2 separate regions of the Homo sapiens genome follow, and region 2 is linked to region 1. Evidence: fine-mapped expression QTL. Tissue or cell type: whole blood. Region 1 holds a variant in brackets; the other region holds the start of a gene. All regions are shown on one strand. Distances are from middle to middle.

Region 1 (5,349 bases):
ATCCACACATCTCCTTCCGTTTCTTCCGCTGCCCTGGTTGCTTCAGGCGTAAGCCCGGGGTGGCCTCCATGCCTTCCCTAGTCCACCCTGCACAGGCTGCCAGCTCTGTGGCCACCACTGCTCCTGTTCCAGGATCTCCAGTGGCTCTAGGTCACCTCCCAAAGACAGTCTGAGCTCCTCAGCCATCGAGAGCCCCACAACCTGGTGCCAACATACTTCCCTGGTCTTACCTGGTATGTTCTCCATCACAGATTTGGCTTTCTGTAGCTCCCAGTCTCTGCTCACTTGCCTCCAGGGTCTCCACCGCTGACATGGTCTCCCTTCCTCACGGAGCCTTGAGCTGCTCTGCACCTCTTTTCCAGAACTTTCCTTGACGCCCCTTCTGGACAAGCTCCCTCCTCTGTGGTGTCCACGCTCATGTACACAACCTCCTTCTTCTCTCATGGAGAGATTTGAGAGGAGAAACAGGACCTCATTTAGTCTTTTTTTTTTTTTTTTTTTTTTTGAGACAGAGTCTTGCTCTGTCGCCCAGGCTGGAGTGCAATGGCACGATCTCGGTTCACTGCAAGCTCTGCCTCCCCAGTTCACACCATTCTCCTGCCTCAGCTTCCTGAGTATCTGGGGCTACAGGTACCCACCACCACGCCCGGCTAATTTTTTGTATTTTTAGTAGAGACGGGATTTCATTGTGTTAGCCAGGATGGTCTCTATCTCCTGACCTCGTGATCCGCCTTCCTCAGCCTCCTAAAGTGCTGGGATTACAGGCGTGAGCCACCGTGCCCAGCCCTAGTCTCTTTTAAAAAAAGTAATAGTGATGGGGTCTCACTATGTTGCCCAGGCTGGCCTCAAACTCCTGGGCTTAAACAATCCTCCTGCCTCCACCTCTCTAGTAGCTGGGAATACAAGCTCGAGCCATCGCGCCCTGTTTAACGTGATTTACTGATGGATGGGATGTGAGGGGTGAAAGAGAGGACAGTTGAGGAGGACTCCAGGGCTTCTTGCCTATTTAAATTGGCAAACAGAGCCTCCACTTTCGAGGGGAAATAGCCAGGGAAGAGGAGGCTTTGGCAGGGGTTCCGCTTCGTCCACACGAAGCGTGAGGGGTCCAGGAAGCAGCTGGAGGCTCCAGCCTGAATCAGGATAGAGATGTCAGGGCTGGGATTTAAATTTGGGATTGGATGAGCTCACTGAGAAAAGAGTGTGGGAAGAAAAGAGGGGCAAGGACAGAGCCCTGGAGCCATCAGCCCTGAGTCCAGAATAAAGGGACCAGGGAGAGGGAGGATTGGGAGAGGGAGGATTAGGAAGGGGGAGGTGGCATTGAGCTGAGATCGAGCCACTGCATTCCAGCCTGGGCTACTAAGCAAGACCGTGTCTCAAAAAATAAAATAAAATTAAAAAAATTACAAAATAAGGCCGGGTGTGGTGGCTCACGCCTATAATCCCAGCACTTTGGGAGGCCGAGACAGGTGGATCACCTGAGGTCAGGAGTTCAAGACCAGCCTAGCCAACATGGTGAAATCCTGTTCTACTAAAAATACAAAAAAAAAATAGCCGAGTGTGGTGGTGGGTGCCTGTAATCCCAGCTACTCAGGAGGCTGAGGCAGGAGAATTGCTTGAACCCAGGAGGCAGAGGTTGCAGTGAGCCGAGATCATGCCATTGCATTTAGCCTGGGCAATAAGAGCGAAACTCCGTCTCAAAAAAAAAAAAAATTACAAAAAAATCTAATAGAAATTTGGTAGAAAGGATAAGAACAATTCACAGAAGAATAAGTAAAAATGGTCAATGAATATAGAAGATATCCAACCTCACTAGTAATTTGGGAGATGTAAATCAAATCTGTGATGATCCCTAGCAACCAGATCTCCATGTCTGAATGGCAGGTGCCACTCAAGGAACCCTGGGGAAGTGGCTGGCTCCAGGGCCA[G/A]GGCCAGGGCCAGGGCCGGGCAAGAGCATGAGGAGCCTGGCACATGTTGTTCGCAGCAGAAAGCAAGGAAGCTTTAAAAGATTAATGGGGCCATGTCAAAAGGACACAGGAGCCAGCTGGAAGGGACTCCTACTGGCCAAGTTGTAACAATTTGAACATCAGAAAGAAAAACGATTGGCCGGGTGCTGTGACTCACGCCTGTAATCCCAGCACTTTGGGATTCCGAGGCGGGTGGATCACGAGGTCAGGAGATCAAGACCCTCCTGGCTAACATGGTGAAACCCCGCCTCTACTAAAAATACAAAAAAATTAGCTGGGCGTGGTGGCGGGTGCCTGTAGTCCCAGCTACTCAGGAGCCTGAGGCAGGAGAATGGCGTGAACCCAGGAGGCGGAGCTTGCAGTGAGCCAAGATTGCGCCACTGCACTCCAGCCTGGGTGACAGAGGGAGACTCCGTCTAAAAAAAAAAAAAAAAAAAAAGTCATTTGTTCATTAGACACTCAAACTGGGGAAATCCAGAGAAACTCTTGGGACCCCACCAAAGCATTTATTCAACCAAACTCTTGGCCAGGCCCAGTGGCAGGTAATCTCAGCACTTAGGGAGGCTGAGGTGGGAGGATCACTTGTGCTCAGGAGTTTGAGACCAGCCTGGGCAACATAGCAAGACTCAGTTTCTAAAAAAGAAAGAAAGAAAGAAAGAAAAATAAATTAGCCGAAGGTGGCGGCATGCACCCGTTGTCCTAAGCTACTCAGGAGGCTGAGGCAGGAGGATCGCTTGAGCCCAGGAGTTTGAGGCTGCAGCGAGCCATGATTGTGCCACTGCATTCTAGCCCAAGCCAGAGAGCAAGATCCTACCTCTTTAAAAATATATATATATATATGTGTATATATATGTGTGTATATATATGTGTGTATATATATATGTGTATATATATATATGTGTATATATGTGTGTGTGTATATATATATATGTGTGTGTGTGTGTGTGTGTGTGTGTGTGTGTGTGTGTGTATCAGGCCCAGAGAGGCAAAAAAATCAAGCATCTATCCTGCCTTTCCAGTAGAAACTGTATTTCAAAGCAGCCAAATAGTTGTCCGGTTTGAGGAAGGAATGCTTTGCTTTACAGAAGAATGCCAGCTGTATTAGGTATTTCTGGCTGCAAAACAATTTATCCCAAAACTTAGCTGCTTGAAACAGCACACGTTTATTATCACTCAGTTCCTGTGGGTCCAGGAATCTGGGCGTGGCTTAGCTGGTTCCTTTGGCTCAGGGTCTCTCATAGGGTGTCAACGAGAAGCTACAGTCATCTCGAGACTTGACTGGGGGACAATCCACTTTGAAGCTCACTCCCTCGGTGACAGGATTCAATGTCCGTCTGGCTGTTGGATTGAGGCTTTCTTTCCCCACTGGCAGTTGTCCAGAGACAGGGACGCTACACAGGAGTGTCAGCTGGGCAGTAGCACAGGACTCTGGGCTCAGAAGCCTCTGTGCTTGGTTTAACGCTCTGCTGTCCCCACATTGGAAGGCGTAATCATTTTTTCTTTGAACTTGTGTCTTATAGTGAAGTCCAGCTGGACAGTGGAGCATGCACCCTATCCACAGCTGACATCCACTGGACTCGCATACAACGTTCTCCATGTCCATGGCACAGTGGTCTGGCGGATCCATGTTGGGTGGGAGTCTAGCAAGATTCAATGTGAATACAAAGTAAGTGAGTTAAGGAAGCCACTGGCTTCCCCGGAGTGTTGGGAGAATCAAGAAGTGAAATAAAGGTGGGGTGCGGTGGCTCATGCCTGTAATCCCAGCACTTTGGGAGGCCAAGGTGGGCAGATCATCTGAGGTCAGGAGTTGGAGACCAGCCTGGCCAACATGGCCATACCCTGTCTCCACTAAAAATACAAAAACTAGCCAGGTGTGGTGGTGGGCACCTGTGGCCCCAGCTACTCGGGAGGCTCAGGCAGGAGAATCGCTTGAACTCGGGAGGTGGAGGTTACGGTGAGCCGAGATTGTGTCACTGCACTCCAGCCTAGGCGATAGAGTGAGACTCCGTCTCAAAAACAAAAACAAAAACAAAAGTGAAATAAAAACAGGTGAGTTAGTTTTGTGCAGTGTTTCCACTGCTGTGGTAAGAACAACACACACCACAGACGCATGTAGGAACTATGAAATACCAATTGTGTAATTCTGCTGATTCTGCATTATGAATTCAATGCTCTTCTATTTGTGTGCAAAAACTGGCATTGCACAATATAAAGATGGATAGTAAAATTCATGCTGACAATTTAAATTTGTATTTTAAAATAAATGACACTGTCATCCCAGCTACTCGGAAAGCTGAGGCAGGAGGATTACTTGAACCCCGGAGTTCAAGACCAGCCTAGGCAACAGCCTGGGTGGGGGCTGCTGGCCCCCCTGGGCTTTCTGTTCCCTGGGACCCTCATCCTAACTCCTAGGGAGTCGTGCATGGGGCCACTGGGTTCAGCAGAAAGAACAGCAGGTAACCCAAAGCCAGCAGGTAACCAAGCTTTCACAGAGAGGGTGAGAGGCTGGCTCGTGGTTGCACAGCAAGTCCAGGGAGATTGGAGCCCGTCTGGGTCTCTTGGGACCAATCTAAAACCAAGCAGCCTCAGACACTGCTTTGCTGGCTCCACGGTCACCAAGGAGAAATGGAAGAGGCTCTTCCAAGGAGCTCTTCTCTCCCAAGGCCCCCAGAGGGTAGGAGAGGCAGAGGCTGGGTCCCATCTCACCTCCCGAGCTGCCACCGACGCCTGGGCCCTCCCTTTCTCCCTTGGCCCAGATGTCACTCCAGGGTAAGAAGCTGGGAGCAAAAGTCTCTGGTCACTGGTCCCCCTAGATCACACCCCTGTGCTCTTCCCGCCTCAGATCCCAGCTGCCCTCGCCACCCTCATCATCCTTCCCCGTTAGCTGCTGCTGGTGTGGGGCCATCGGAAGGTTTGAGCAGGGGCCGACGAGGTCAATTTTCCTGAAGAGAGCTTTGCTGGATGGAGCCTGGACTGTAGGAGGTGACCTTGGAGACCACCGGGGAGGCCGTGGGGAGCCCGGGCCAGGGCGATGTCTTCCTGTCCTGCTGTGTCCTCTCTGCTTCTCTCTAATGGTGGGGACTGTGGGAGAGGCTGGGACTTTGGGGTCAGCCTGTGGCTCCTGCCTTGCCCCGTGGCCGTGGGCGGCTTGTTGATGAGCCCAGCTCTTTGGCTGTAAGATGGGGTCATGAGGTGCATCTCTGAGGGTGATGGAGGGGAACAGATGAGGCCCGTCTAGAAGAGACCCTCCCTACCTCAGGAACCCCGTCCTTGCTCATCTGAACTCACCCCGCTGTTCACATGTTTGCTTACTATGCTCTTCGTCCTTGGGGATGGATGCTTCCTCTGGCAGGCCCTGCCTGTCTGCTCTGGCACCCAGATCAGA
Region 2 (5,374 bases), 47 kb after region 1:
ACTGGGTGGCATCCAGGCCCAATACAGCCCTGCTAGAGCCCAGAGCCTCCATCTTCCACACATCAGCTCTGCAGCCTCCCATCCTCACTCTTCCTGCCACGAAGTGGCTCAAATGGCAGAGCAGGTGCCCATTGTTCCCCCTTTCAACCTCATTTCTGATTTTGTCCCCAACCACCCCTACAAACACATGAAAATCTTCTTCCTTCTCCCTTCCTCCCCGAAAACAAAAGTCCTTATACATAAGGTCACCTTATTCATTAGCGGTAAAAGCATGGATTCTACAGGCTGGGAGCAAACCCTGACCCTGCCAGTTACTGGTTATGTGAATTTGGGCAAGTTACCGAATTTCCCAGTGCTTCTGTTTCCTTATCCGTAAAATGGGGACAGTGATAGTGTTACCGGAGAGGAGTCCTGATCCAGACCCCAAAAGAGGGTTCTTGGATCTTGAGCAAGAAGGAATTTGGGATGTCTATAGACTAAAGTGAAAGCAAGTTTATTAGAAAAGTAAAGGAATAAAAGAATGGCTACTTGGCCAGGCATGGTGGCTCAAGCCTATAATCCTAGCACTTTGGGAGGCTGAGGCAGGCAGATCACTTGAGGTCAGGAGTTCGAGACCAGCCTGGCCAACATGGTGAAACCCTGTTGCTACTAAAAATACAAAAATTAGCCGGGCGTGGTGGCGTGCGCCTGTAATCCAGCTACTCGGGAGGCTGAAGCAGGAGAATTGCTTGAACCCAGGAGGTGGAGGCTGCAGTGAGCCGAGACAGCAGCACCACTGCAGCCTGGGTGACAGAGCGAGACTCTGTCTCAAAAAAAAAAAAAAAAAAAAGGCTACTCCACAGAGCAGCCCTGAGGGCTGCTGGTTGCCCATTTTTATGGTTATTTCTTGATTATATCCTAAACAAGGGGTGGATTATTTACGCCTCCCATTTTTAGACCACATAGGGTAACTTCCTGATGTTGCCATGGCATTTGTAAACTGTCATGGCGCTGGTGGGAGTGTAGCAGTGAGGACGACCAGAGGTCACTCTCATCGCCATCTTGGTTTTGGTTTTGGTGGGCTTATTTACTGCAAACTGTTTTATCAGCAAGGTCTTTATGGCCTGTATCTTGTGCCGACCTCCTGTCTCATCCTGTGACTTAGAATGCCTTAACCGTCCGGGAATGCAGCCCAGTAGGTTTCAGCCTCGTTTCACCCAGCTCCTATTCAAGATGGAGTTTTCTGGTTCCAATGCCTCTGACAGTAGTACTTCATCGCATTGTGAGGATTAAACGAGTTCATACATGTACAGAAACCAGTATAGGGAATGGCACCTGGTAAGTGCTATGAAGTATTAGCTATCATTACTATCTTGTCTACAGTAGGTCACCAGCCCGCTAGCAGCTTTTGGGAAATTCCACACTTAGAATTCCCACTGTAAGTCTCAAATGAAAGGAACTATGTTTGCAGGGATAGAACACATTCTTCCTTTCAGTATTACACAAAATAACGTGTCTTCAAGGGTAAGGTAGAGAAACCTAATGGCCAGAATTACTGCTGAATGAATTAATGATTATTTGCTGAAGACTTACTGTGAGCATAGCAGGTAAATACCAAACCCTGCACTGTTAAGAAATTAAAAAGAAAAAAATAAAAATAAAAAGAGGCTGGGCGTGGTGGCTCACGCCTGTAATCCCAGCACTTTGGGAGGCTGAGACGGGTGGATCACCTGAGGTCAGGAGTTTGAGAACAGCCTAACATGGAGAAACCCCATCTCTACTAAAAATACAAAATTAGCTGGGCGTGGTGGCGCATGCCTGTAATCCCAGCTACTCAGGAGGCTGAGGCAGGAGAATCACTTGAGCTTGGGAGGCGGAGGTTGCCGTGAGCCGAGATCGTGCCATTGCATTCCAGCCTGGGCAACAAGAGCAAAAGTCCATCTCAAAAAAAAAAAAAAAAAAAAATAATAATAATAATAAAAAGAGACTTCTGCTCTTGAAGAGCTTACAATCAAATGAAAGGAGGTAAACATAAGCAAATGTGGTAATTTGAAGATAAGTATCTGCAACATATTACCATCTGCAGGACAATATAACCCACACCGAAGGCCACAGAGATCACTGTTAATGGGTGGATGAGAACAGGGAGACTGGAATGGAGAAAAGGCTCTCGGTCTTGCAAACTTAAACTAGCTTTCAAATAGGTGCAAATTCTGGCCCTGATTGTTGATGTCGTTTTTGCCTTATTTTTATTTCAAAAACGAAGCCAGACCGGGCGCAGTGGCTCACCTTTGTAATCCCAGCACTTTGGGAGGCCAAAACAGGAGGACTGCTTGAGGCCAGGAGTTTGAGACCAACCCGGGCAACATAGTGAGACCTCATCTCTGCAAAATAAAAATAATCAGCTGGGCGTGGTGGCGCTCGCCTGTCGTCCCGGCCACTCAGGAGGCTGAGGCGGGAGGATCACTTGAGCCCGGGAGGTCCAGGCTACAATAAGTTATGATTGCACCACTGCACTCCAGCCTGCGTGCCAGGGTGAAACCTTATCTCAAAAACAAACCAAAAAAACCCAGAAACAAAAAAAAATGAAGCCAAGGTGTTTGCCTGAAAAATAACACTCAGAAGAGCAGTGGGTGTTACATCATTCTCCGTTCTTTTCGTAATTCAGCTCGTGACACTTGCCTTTTTTTCTCTTCTCGGAATGCCCCGGGCCCCTGGGCAGCCGCGGAGGCCGAGCCCCGTCGCTCTCCAGCGCTCCTTGCCGCCCGCGCCTCGGCTTCACCGGCCTCGCCCCAAACTTAAAAACACCTGAGCAGGAGGTTGAACGATTCCCTCGGAATCTCTCCTCTTCACTAACCCAGCGAACCACCCCAAATGCCCCTATCCTCCCCCAAATAAAATCCGCAGAGCAATTAACAAAGATACTCGGCCAAGCCCCGGTTTCCTCATCTGTCCCTGCCCCCTCGAACTTTCTGTGCTTCCCCAGTCTCGACCAGGGACAAACTGTGTTGAAGCTCAATGACTTTCTGGCAGAAGTGAACCTCCAGCTTCGTTTTCTGACAGCCGTGGTTCTTCACAGGCCTGGTTTCCCACTCCGGACCCTCCACTGCCCCTGGTGGCGGCCACCATCTTACCCCCAGCTCCAGGGTCGCGCTGAGGACGCGGCCAGCCCCCAGCCGCCGTAGTTTTGAACTACATTTCCCACCAGCCCTTTCTCAACATCGCGAGAGTTCCGGAGAGATTGCCGAGAAGACTTGCGCGCAGGGGCGGTCTCGCGTTCTTTTCGAGGTCGGCCGCGTGGCTGGAAGACATGGCCACTCCAGTCGGTGTTGAGCACGGCGAGCAGTCTCAGGCCTTTAGTGATGATGGTAAGGCTGCCTGGGTGGGAAAACGGGGTCTTCCTTGACACGACACTAACATACTTGGCTTCCCTTCCTCAGAGACGAAGTGGTGACGATAATCTCGGTTTCTCCCTCATAGGGTGGTTAGGAGGGTTAAAAGTACTGGATGAGAAAATGCTTTCCAAACGTTGAGAAAATGTTACTATGTGAAGGGAGAGAGCTCAAGCCCGTCCTCGGCGTCATAGGGCCGGCTTCTGCGGGGGAGAGCGCCTAACAACCTGGGCAGCCCCGTGCGCCTCCGCCGCGCGTGTGCTGAGCGTCATGCCCAGGGGTCTTCGGTGCCCGCGCACGGGCAGACTCTGACGATGGTGGTTCTTAATTCAGCATCAGGAGTGTTAACGTGTGAAGACGTGATTCCGCTTGGAGTGTCTTGAGGACGGCCCCAATCGGTAGTTCATATTTAGCTTTACAGATAGGAGTCAATAGGATTGTAAACTTCTGGAAAGCCGTAGTTTTAACAACGAGCCTTTTTTCCTCCCCCAGAGGCCTTTCTTTGTTTGGCATCTGCAGAGACGGTGAAAAGCAGAGCTCCAGGTTGAAGGATCAGAGTAATAGATGGAGCCCTTAACATGAGTAAGAGTGGGTGCAGGCAGGGCCTGAGTGGTCACTAGAAATGAGAAAGCACAGTTGGTGCCATCACATACATTCACCTCCTGCTTTATTCTGAAGTTCAAGTATGAGAATACGTGTTGACATACAAGCCAGCTATGGTAAGAAATTACTCAAAATTCAGAATGCTAATTATTTTAATGATAAAAATGAGTAGCGTCTTTGCCCGTGTGATTTGGGGCCACTAGGTGTCATTGTAACCAGCGTGGATCCTCGTTAGGGCATGCAGGGATGAAAGAGACATGGCAAATGAATTTTGGATCGCTAGGATTTAGGAATCTTTGTTATTGGCTGAGCTGAGGATGATTTAAAGTTATCCCTGTCTGAAATGGTATCTTTTGTGAGGAGGTCTGACTTGCTGAGGCTCAGCTGTTTAATACAAATCTGGAGAATAAACCTTAAGGTGGTTTCTGTTAGAATGAAGCCTGTTATCCTTCTCTTTTAGATTAAAGGTGGTGGCTGTGGCCTTGAAAACAGTCATGTGAAAACTCATCACCTTAAGGTGTTAAGTGTAAGGATCTTCATGATGAAATTTCTGTAAATGGTGAGATTTTTAGTACTTTCATAGACTTGAATATGCTTATGGTCCTCTTTAAGTATTGGTTTGTTAGTTTTGGGGATGTGTTGGTCTTCCAGGGTTACGATTGCCCAGATAATGGAAGTAGTATGGAATTCCTTTTGATAGGGTCCTTGCCAAGCACTCTCATAAAGAGCATTTTTTGTTTGTTTGTTTTGAGACAGAGTTTTGCTCTTGTTGCCCAGGCTGGAGTGCGATGGTGCGATCTTGGCTCAGCGCAACCTCTGCCTCCTGGGTTCAAGCTAGTCTCCTGCCTCAGCCTCCCAAGTAGCTGGGATTACAGGCATGCACCACCACGCCTAGCTAATTTTGTGTTTTTAGTAGAGACGGGGTTTCTCCATGTTGGTCAGGCTGGTCTTGAACTCCCGACTTAAGGTGATCTGTGCTGGGATTACAGGCGTGAGCCACCTTGCCTGGCCATAAATAGTATTTCTAATATCAACCCCATATGAGGTAAATTTTTTTCCCCACTCTGCTGCTGAGTAAGTAAAAGTGAGGCGTAAAGAGTTCTTTTGCCCAAAGTTATACAAGCAGTTACTGAGTTAGACTGGCAGTTCTGAACTGGGGAGCGATGGTGTTCCTGGCATCTGGTGAATGCTACTATTAATAAATACCCTGGCTGGGCCTGGATATTTATCTCATGCCTGTAATCCCAGCACTTTGGGAGGCCGAAGCAGATGGATCACCTGAGGTCAGGAGTTCGAGTTCGAGACCAGCCTGGCCAACATGGTGAAACCTTGTCTCTACTAAAAATACAAAAATTAGCTGGGTGTGGTGGCGGGCACCTGTAATCCTAGCTACTTGGGAG

The links. PIP is the estimated chance that this variant, and not a neighbour inherited with it, causes the effect.
Region 2: SNHG16 starts here. The variant in region 1 is fine-mapped to the expression of SNHG16 in whole blood (TOPMed, PIP 0.93).

The regions. Positions count from the first base shown.
Region 1 is chr17:76,507,817-76,513,165 of GRCh38, forward strand. No RefSeq gene overlaps it. Among named protein-coding and RNA genes, the nearest start is that of RHBDF2, 9.1 kb to the left of the region's middle. RefSeq lists a silencer at 2,420-2,630 and an enhancer at 5,013-5,349. The variant G/A (reference allele first, on the strand shown) is at 1,926.
Region 2 is chr17:76,554,511-76,559,884 of GRCh38, forward strand. SNHG16 (small nucleolar RNA host gene 16) reads left to right here and starts at 3,254. Exons shown (of 3, transcript NR_038111.1): 1 at 3,254-3,347. It overlaps SNORD1C (small nucleolar RNA, C/D box 1C), which reads left to right and starts at 4,280; the gene lies at 4,280-4,359. RefSeq lists enhancers at 2,285-2,384, 2,874-3,674, 3,075-3,334, 3,675-4,476.